Linked DNA regions of Homo sapiens: all the other regions are linked to region 3. Evidence: fine-mapped expression QTL. A gene starts in region 3. Each other region holds a variant in brackets. All regions are shown on one strand. Distances are between the middles of the regions.

The links. PIP is the estimated chance that this variant, and not a neighbour inherited with it, causes the effect.
Region 1: its variant is the best candidate, but not a certain one, in a credible set for the expression of TRPM3 in cerebral cortex (GTEx, PIP 0.54).
Region 2: its variant is the best candidate, but not a certain one, in a credible set for the expression of TRPM3 in subcutaneous fat (GTEx, PIP 0.52).

The regions. Positions count from the first base shown.
Region 1 is chr9:71,071,489-71,074,252 of GRCh38, reverse strand. The region is part of intron 1 of TRPM3 (transient receptor potential cation channel subfamily M member 3); the gene reads left to right. Among named protein-coding and RNA genes, the nearest start is that of TRPM3, 49 kb to the left of the region's middle. The variant C/T (reference allele first, on the strand shown) is at 1,191.
Region 2 is chr9:70,897,024-70,899,787 of GRCh38, reverse strand. The region is part of intron 1 of TRPM3 (transient receptor potential cation channel subfamily M member 3); the gene reads left to right. Among named protein-coding and RNA genes, the nearest start is that of MIR204, 88 kb to the right of the region's middle. The variant A/C (reference allele first, on the strand shown) is at 1,356.
Region 3 is chr9:71,119,989-71,122,752 of GRCh38, reverse strand. It overlaps TRPM3 (transient receptor potential cation channel subfamily M member 3), which reads left to right and starts at 1,132. Exons shown (of 26, transcript NM_001366145.2): 1 at 1,132-1,575. The coding sequence starts at 1,399. RefSeq lists an enhancer at 1,487-2,324.

The sequences.
Region 1 (2,764 bases), 48 kb after region 3:
AGAAACAGCTGCACAGACTGCTTGCCTTATGCACGGAAAATAGTAAAATATTTGGACAATAATTTAAATAAGAGATAACCATATATGCCTTACCTGTTCTGGTAGTTACTAAAATAGAATTAATTGCGGGCTGGTGAATTATATTGTTAACAATAATCATGGTTCCGCTAGCCTCTTTTAGTCAGAGAAAAATGCGTGTTGTAACTCTTGAAGTTACTTATTATGACTGAAAAGCTCCAATTTAATAGAATCAAAAGATGTATTCTTTATACAGAAAAAAATCCAGCAATGAAAGTTGAAATTTGAATAATTTTATATGATAGAAGTATATCCTTTTCCTTAGATTAGTGCTTTTCCAGCTTTTTAAATAACTACCCAGGGAAATAAAAGTAAGATAATCATAAATGCCTTTGTACCACTGTAAAATTCAGCATTCTTTTCTTGACATTATCTCAGCAATATTTTTCTGTTTTTTTTAATTAAATAATTAATTTGTGCATCATGGCGTTCCTGTCATATATAAGCTGCCAGCTTGAAAAGCAAAGCTCTGTGCTTTAATATTACGCAATGCAAGAAATAACATTTTCTAAATAAATTGGGTTTTTTTTTTATTGATAATCTATGGAATGGAACAGGGAGGAATATTGTAGCTTGCTTTTCTTACTCAAGAAAATATCAATGGGCATTTTGGAACATCAGCAGTAGCTGAAGCTCCATCTCTGGCCAGCAAAATTAAAGTAATTAGATAGTTGTCAGGAACTAATCACTGATGAGACTTCTACACTTTCTCAAGCTCAGAACTGGAAAATTAAATAAAGGGCTAAGAAGGATACAATATGTTTTTCTTTGAGACTACTGGTCTTCCTTTTACTATGTAGTTTGAACCGTCACATGTCCTACTTTCCTTTTGGCCTTGATAGCCAAGAAGTTCAAAAGTAAGACTTTGGCTCAAATTTAGGGTCTTGCATTAAGCCTGTTTTTCCAAGTCTCACCTCTCCTCCTCCCGTTCATTCTCATCTTTATGACTTGATTTCTGCTTTTATAGTCTTCTGTTCGAAGTTTTAGTATTATTTTTGTTTTCATGCACTATGTCTGACTGCCACAATTACTACTTGAGACCATCACTACGACAGTTACTACTGTTACTACTTGAGACTGTCGTTATGAGACTGAACAAAGGGGAATGAACA[C/T]AGAAATGAAAACTTAAGACAAAGGAAACTGTTTTAAAGGAAGGGGCCGGGGAAGATGGCTCCCTGCTTCTAGTGAGCAAAGGCAGCCACCTCGAGCTTCTTCAGCCCTTCTTTTTTACTGGGTAGAAAGAGTAGGGAGGAGGAGGTAATGACTGGTCAGCTGCTTAATTGATCACAAGTTCACATTATTGCTAACAGGCTTCAGATGTGTCTAATCACAAGAAACACTTGTGCCTTGGTTGTGACTGCCCTCAGCATTCCTTGTGGGCAGCAGATGCAGTTTGTCAGTTTTCCAACATCCTGCTTTCGTGAGAGCAGTTTGCTGTTTACTCACATAGCCTCCAGTGGTATACTGAGTTGATTACGACCCTCACTCTTTCGGCCTTCAACAATGCATGATATTGTGCCTTATTTTAGGCACTATTACTGCACAAGCTCTGGAGTCAGACGGGTTGGGTCCAGCTCTTGATTCTGCAACCCAAGAACTGTGTGATATTGGACCCACAACTGAATCCATCTATCCTGCATTTTCCTGTCTATGGAATGGGGCAGTAATGGTACCTGCCTCTTGGGTTATTGGGAGGATTAAGTGAGTTAATATTGTATTTACTAGGTGATTTAAATGGGAGATCTGGCACATGGTAAGTGCTTAATAAGTGTTAACTATCGAAGAGATGAATGGAAAGACATGCTCACAGGGAAATATAAATAGGCAAATCTAAGACAAAATGCTTTGTAGAAATAATGATAGGTTTAACTATCTTAACTTAAAAAAATTAATTCATGACCACCCTAAAAGCAAACTGTGGCCTTGATGCTGACCAACTGTAATGACAAATAGAGAAATCTCAAAAATGTAGAATTTGCCATCAATGAAGGTGTTCCATAAACTCCTGGAAACTAGATCTGAAATGTTTGGGCTTTCCTATATAAAGAAATCAGATGGACATATGTTTTATGACTTTGGTTTCAATTAGCTCCTCTCTGAAAATATCTCTTACAGGTCTGGGCCTATGAGTTCTACCACCCAATACCTAATCAAGAGACCCAGTACCAAAAACATCTGAATCCCATTTCCTACTTGTTCCTCTTACCCATTTCTTTTTTACTTTCCTGGCACTAAGAGGACTTCTGTGATGTCTCCTTGAAGGAGTAAAGGAGAGAGAGAAAGACCTGAAGTGTATTGATTCCCTCTATGTGAACCACATCCTGTTCTAGAGGCTCCACCTGCATCCTCATGTCACAGGCGGTTATTAGTATCTCCACTTACATTGCAGGTTCAGGAGTGTTAAATGAATCTCTCAGCACCCTATATTTACTAAGTGGCAGAGTTGGATTCAAACCCAGCTCTGTTTGGCACTAAAGTCAATTCTCTTTCTGTTCCATATCTCTAATCACTCTACTACCAAGTCAGTGGACAAAGATTGCTAGAATGCACTAATTTGGTCTTGCATAATTAGGAATCTTTAGCAAAGGATGTGGGATGTGGATTACAATTCCCTGTTGTAAATTTCTTGATTTTCTGGGCAGTTTAATATTATTCATTTCATTGTCAAGATTGTAGTCTCATGTAG
Region 2 (2,764 bases), 220 kb after region 3:
GAGAGGGTTCCTAACCCAGTGTTGTTCACAGTCTATTTGAGACCAACTCTCAAACAAGCAAATGCCTTAAGATAGAATCCTTACTATGATCTAAGCATCTGTGGGATGCATTGGGGCACAAATGAGTGAATGGTCAGTTCTCCCTGAGGCGTAGGTTAGGAATAGTTTCATCAATTAAAAGTTTTGCAAGACAGCAGATTCATAAGGGGTCAAGGGAAGGAACAAAAAGAGCAATTTAGGCAAAGGAAGCAGCACAAGAAAAAACAACACAAACCGTTATGACACAACGTTTGGAGACTTGCAAGTGGTCCTGTAGCTCAAGTGTAAGATGTGAAGGAAGGACGTAATGAGAGATGAGTAAGGAAAAGAGATAGAAAAGGGTTCAGAATGCCATAAGAAGTTTGTTCACAAACTCTTAGGCAATGGGGAGCAGCTGAACGATATGATCAGGTTTTCCAGAAAGACCTTGTTTTAATAAAATAAACAGTAACAGTAAGATCACTTCCAGGAATAACAAGTCATCTTTTAAGGCTACAACAAAGCTGTGGTGACAAGTGTACAATCAGTGAGTGTAGTTTATAACTGTATTACTCTATAAACTGAAATCTCTCTTTCCCTCTAAATTTCGGTTTACCCTATTGGTTTTCCATTTTGGTTCCAAAGATATCTCCCAGGCTTTCATGTCCTCCTTCTTTCTCTAGGAACATAAATTTCAGATTCTCCAAACACTTTATGCAGGCACTGGCCTTGGCTTCAGTTCCTTTCACTCATTGTCTCCTATGGATAGTGTATGATTTCTGTTGTCCAAGCTTCATATTGGTAACAAACTTACCAATTAAGCAAAGGTTTCCCAAAAAGGTTGCATTTGAACCACCCTCATTCCCAGAAAGGGTTCAGGTTCAAAAGACTAGTTCAGCCCACGTTTTATCAGCAGCAGCTGCTATCTTCAGGCTGCTTTTAAATTTGCAGAAGTAGAACGAAACCAGTAAATTTTTTCTTTCTTTTCTTTTCTTTTCTTTTCTTTTTTTTTTTTTTTTTTTGAGATGAAGTCTCACTCTTTTGCCCAAACTGGAGTGCAATGGCACGATCTCAGCTCAGTGCAACCTCTACCTCCCGGGTTCAAGAGATTCTCCTGCCTCAGCCTCGGGAGTAACTGGGACTACAGGCACGCACAAACATGCCTGGCTAATTTTTGTATTTTTAGTAGAGACGGGGTTTCATTATGTTGGCCAGGTTGGTCTTGAACTCCTGGCCTCGTGATCCGCCCGCCTTGGCCTCCCAAAGTGCTGGGATTACAGGCATGAGCCACCGTGCCCGGCCGGAAACCAATAAATTTTTCAAAAACATTTACTTTT[A/C]AATTTATTGTGGCCGGGCGCGGTGGCTCACGCCTGTAATCTCAGCACTTTGGGAGGCTGAGGTGGGTGGATCACGAGGTCAGGAGATCGAGACCATCCTGGCTAACACGGTGAAACCCCATCTCTACTAAAAATACAAAAAATTAGCCGGGCGTAGTGGCGGGCGCCTGTAGTCCCAGCTACTCAGGAGGCTGAGGCAGGAGAATGGCGTGAACCCGGGAGGCGGAGCTTGCAGTGAGCCGAGATCGCGCCACTGCACTCCAGCCTGGGCGACAGAGCCAGACTCCGTCCCCCAGCCACCAAAAAAAAAAAACAATTTATTGTGAGTGAGCTGCTTAGTGAGAATGTAGGTGCCTGCAAAACCAACATAAAGACCGTCCTAATGAGTCATTTATTGTATCACTGGTCGGGGATGTTATTCAAGCAAGAGGATCTGCAGAGCTAGGCAAGCTCCAGAAATTGGAGTTAATGCTTTAGTTGGTCTTGAGCTGTTAATTATCTGTTGTTTAATAACAACTCCCTACACAACGTGAGCCTTGCTATAATTTACCAGTCTGACCCTTCTTGAACTTCACCACAAATGCTATTAATGGCCAATGCGCTATTACAACAATAAAGAGAATTTCTTCTATTAGGTTGGTGCAAAAGTAATTATTTTTGCACCAACTAATAGGTTATCAGCATAATTTAGAAGCCATTGTTTCTTTAATCTTTCAAGCCTTTAGCATACTCTGAGTGTTCCCTCCACTAGATGCCATCAGTTTCTTCTCCCAGTTGGAGAGAGTTACTATAGACTTTATGAGTTTTCTAGAAATTTGCCTCTGAGAAAACAATTTTCTCTTCAAAACTCAGCCTAGACCTTGCGGGCTGTTACAACTGTTTGATGTAATAAAAGAACCTCCAAACAGAATTGTTGGGAAATTGAAAATTGAGATCTAATTCCACCGCTGATATTCGCTACCCTTATACATCTCAGTTTTCACAGTTACCGAAAAGTATGATCATATGAGTAAGAATGTACAATATTGCTCTTTCTGTGCTTGGCTTATTTCACTTAAAGTCCTCCAGTTCCACTCATGTTGCTGCAAATGACAGGATCTCATTCTTTTTTACGGCTGAATAATAAAAAATTGATCTCATGGAGACAGTGAGTAAAATAGTGGTTACCAGAGGCTGGGAAGGGGAGCACGGAGGGAGAGATAGAGGTTGGTTAATTGGTACAAAAATACAGTTAGATAGAAGGAATAAGTTCTAGTCTTCTGTAGCAGAGTGGGGCAACTACAGTTAACAAGAATTTATTGTATATTTCAAAATAGCTAAAAGAAAAAATCTGGAATGTTCTCAACACAAAGAAATGATAAATGTTTGAGGTGATGAATATCCCAATTATTCTCATTTGATCATTGCAC
Region 3 (2,764 bases):
CACAAGACCATTGTGAGTGAAATGGTGTTGTAGCGCAGTGTGTCAGGTATTGATTTCATGCTGGGGTGGGCCTGTGTTGTCCCGGTTCTGAATTACAGCAGTGTATCACATCTGCTTGCACCACTCCCAGTTCAGCTCTGACTGCATAATAGTCATGGAGCTGGGATTTACCAATCTCTTCAAGTTAATTAGAAATGGAAAATCAGCATGGTCACAGAGGAAAAAATAAATAAGATGGCGATGCTCCAAGGATGTGGGGATTCTCCCCATAGGAGTTGTCAGGTCAACTGCTCCCACTGAGGTCCGATGCCTGGGGGTACATGGGAGCCGAAGGGGGGTTGTGTCAGGAACTCCCTTCTCATCTCACCGTCCCAACTTACTATGTGAAATTATCCAATTTCTACCTTCAAATTGAAAAACTGTCCTTTAATTCTCTCTCTCACCACAGGAGTCCTAAAGACTATACATTCCAACTCAGCAACTATTTCATACAGCCTCCTTAGAAAATGATGGGGGTGGACACCCCACTTGAGGAAAATCCATTCTTTATAGACAGCATCCCATGTGGCACTTTATGGGTTAAACTTGTGTTGCAGAGAAGCGGTATCAAGTGGCTTTCCAGGAGATAACCCCCATTTAAAAACTGCCATCTCTAAAAGGTGAGCCAAATGCCCATGAGTTTAAACTGCTTTGTATGAAAGGAACAACCCAGTGTGTTTGAGTTTGCTTCTGTCTCAGTGTCTGTCATCTATGCAACCGATTATCAGGATGAAGACTGTCAATCACGGTTAATAAAAACCTCAGAACACGACACAGATCTCTTTTACTATAGATGTATTTGATGATAGCCTCACTTTATTATGTCACATAAATCAAAAGGGAAGCATTTATCTCATCATTCGGAGGCACCCCTTCTCTCCCTGTGTCCTCACCCCTCCCCCCGTACCAGTTCTCAGTCCCTCAAAGATGCTTTGTGCAAGAAAGTGCAAGTTTCCCGTTCTGGCTTCATTTTTGTTCCCTTTTGCGATCCTCCTGGCTCCCCCCCAAACCAAGCTAGCAAAGCAATGGCCCCGGTTCCCCCCCAACGCCTGACCTGCGTTTACTGGGAGGAGAGCGGGAGAGGGAGCGCGCATTCTGGAGCAGGCTGCTTTGACTCCGACCACAGGCTGTTTTGTGCAGGCTGTCCCTCTTCTTCAAAATCGTGCATCCCCTCCCCGAAGCAGCAGGCAGTGTGCCTCCATTCAGCCACATTTGGTATGCATGAGCACGGCTGCAGAGAGAGGGGAGGTGGCTGTTTTAAGAAGGTTCAGGGGCTCAGGCAAGGCTACTTGACTAGTCTTCCAAGTTCCAGGAAGCCTCTGCCCTAATGGAATTTGCAGGTGTGGAGATGACCATGGGATGCCAGAGCCGTGGGGGACCGTTTATTTTCTAGGCATTGCTCAGGTTTTCAGTTTCTTGTTTTCCTGGTGGAATTTGGAAGGGGTCATGAATCAGGCTGATGCTCCTCGACCCCTAAACTGGACCATCCGGAAGCTGTGCCACGCAGCCTTTCTTCCATCTGTCAGACTTCTGAAGGTACTGTAACTTGCAGCTTTGAATGGCGCTAATTGTGCTTTTTAGATTTAAATACCCAACTTGGGGACTTGGGCTGGGACGCACCTTTGGGGGAGCCTAAATGCATGCAGTACTGGCTCTGTGGTCCGTGGCTGGAGAGAGGTTCTCAGTACTCCTGCCCTCCCCCCACGCCCCCCACCCACACCCCGTGGTGTCAGAGACAAGAGGCTGGTGCGAACCACACTCGAGAAGGAGATTTTGGTCTCAGAGAATGGGCTACCTGGTGCTCCCCCACCCCTTTTAACCATTCCTAAAACAGAATTAATTAACTTCTTTGGGAGGGTGGGAATAGTAGTGGGAGTGAAATCTCTTACTCCCTTGTGTTTGGCTCCTGGGCTTTTCTTTCTCTCTCCCTGGGGAAGCCCTTCGACCCACTTTCCCTTTAAATGGAACCAGAGAGAACAAAGGATTCTCCTCATTAGTTTAAAAGCTTTGTGTAGTTAGGTGGCCAGTCAGGTGAAGATGAACAAAGAATGAGCCTCCTCAGACAGTGACTTTTTTTGTGTCCTTGTTTTTAGAAAAGGCATAAAAATGTGAGTCTCCTGAGTGGAATCAGTAGTGGGAAAGTATTGTTAAACATATATTGAATGTCAGCTCTCTCTCTAGCTGTGAGTCACACAAAAGAATGGCACTACACCTGAGCAGGAATTGCCACCGTGTGTCTGCAGCGCTTCTCTTTCCAGAAGCAAATGCATTAAAGATACTGAAAAAGTCCATACAACTCTGTACTAATCCACCTTCATGATCTTTCTTGTAGGGGGGAAAACACAAATTAGATTTAAAGGTGCAGGAAACAAGCATTTTTGCCCAGTAAATAGAAGGTGGTAATACTTAATAGGGAAAAATAAATATCTCTGATGTTCTATATCCATTCGAAGTTAAAAAAGGCAAAGTTCTTAATTCTCTTTTCCTGAGTATGTATGCTCTTTTGATTTAGTGACCACAGAGCATTGAGTCCAGTGGGCTACAATGGAGAATTAATGAATTAGCCCTGAATACGTTACACTTGGAGAATTTTGTTCTGAGGATGTGTTCTGGTTAGGTAAGATTTGATGGGGACAGTTAGTTCCATACAGCTAAGTGGTGCCTCACAACAGAGTATTACCCCTTGCCTGAGTTTTCCTTTTCTTGTTAAACACCAACTGGTATT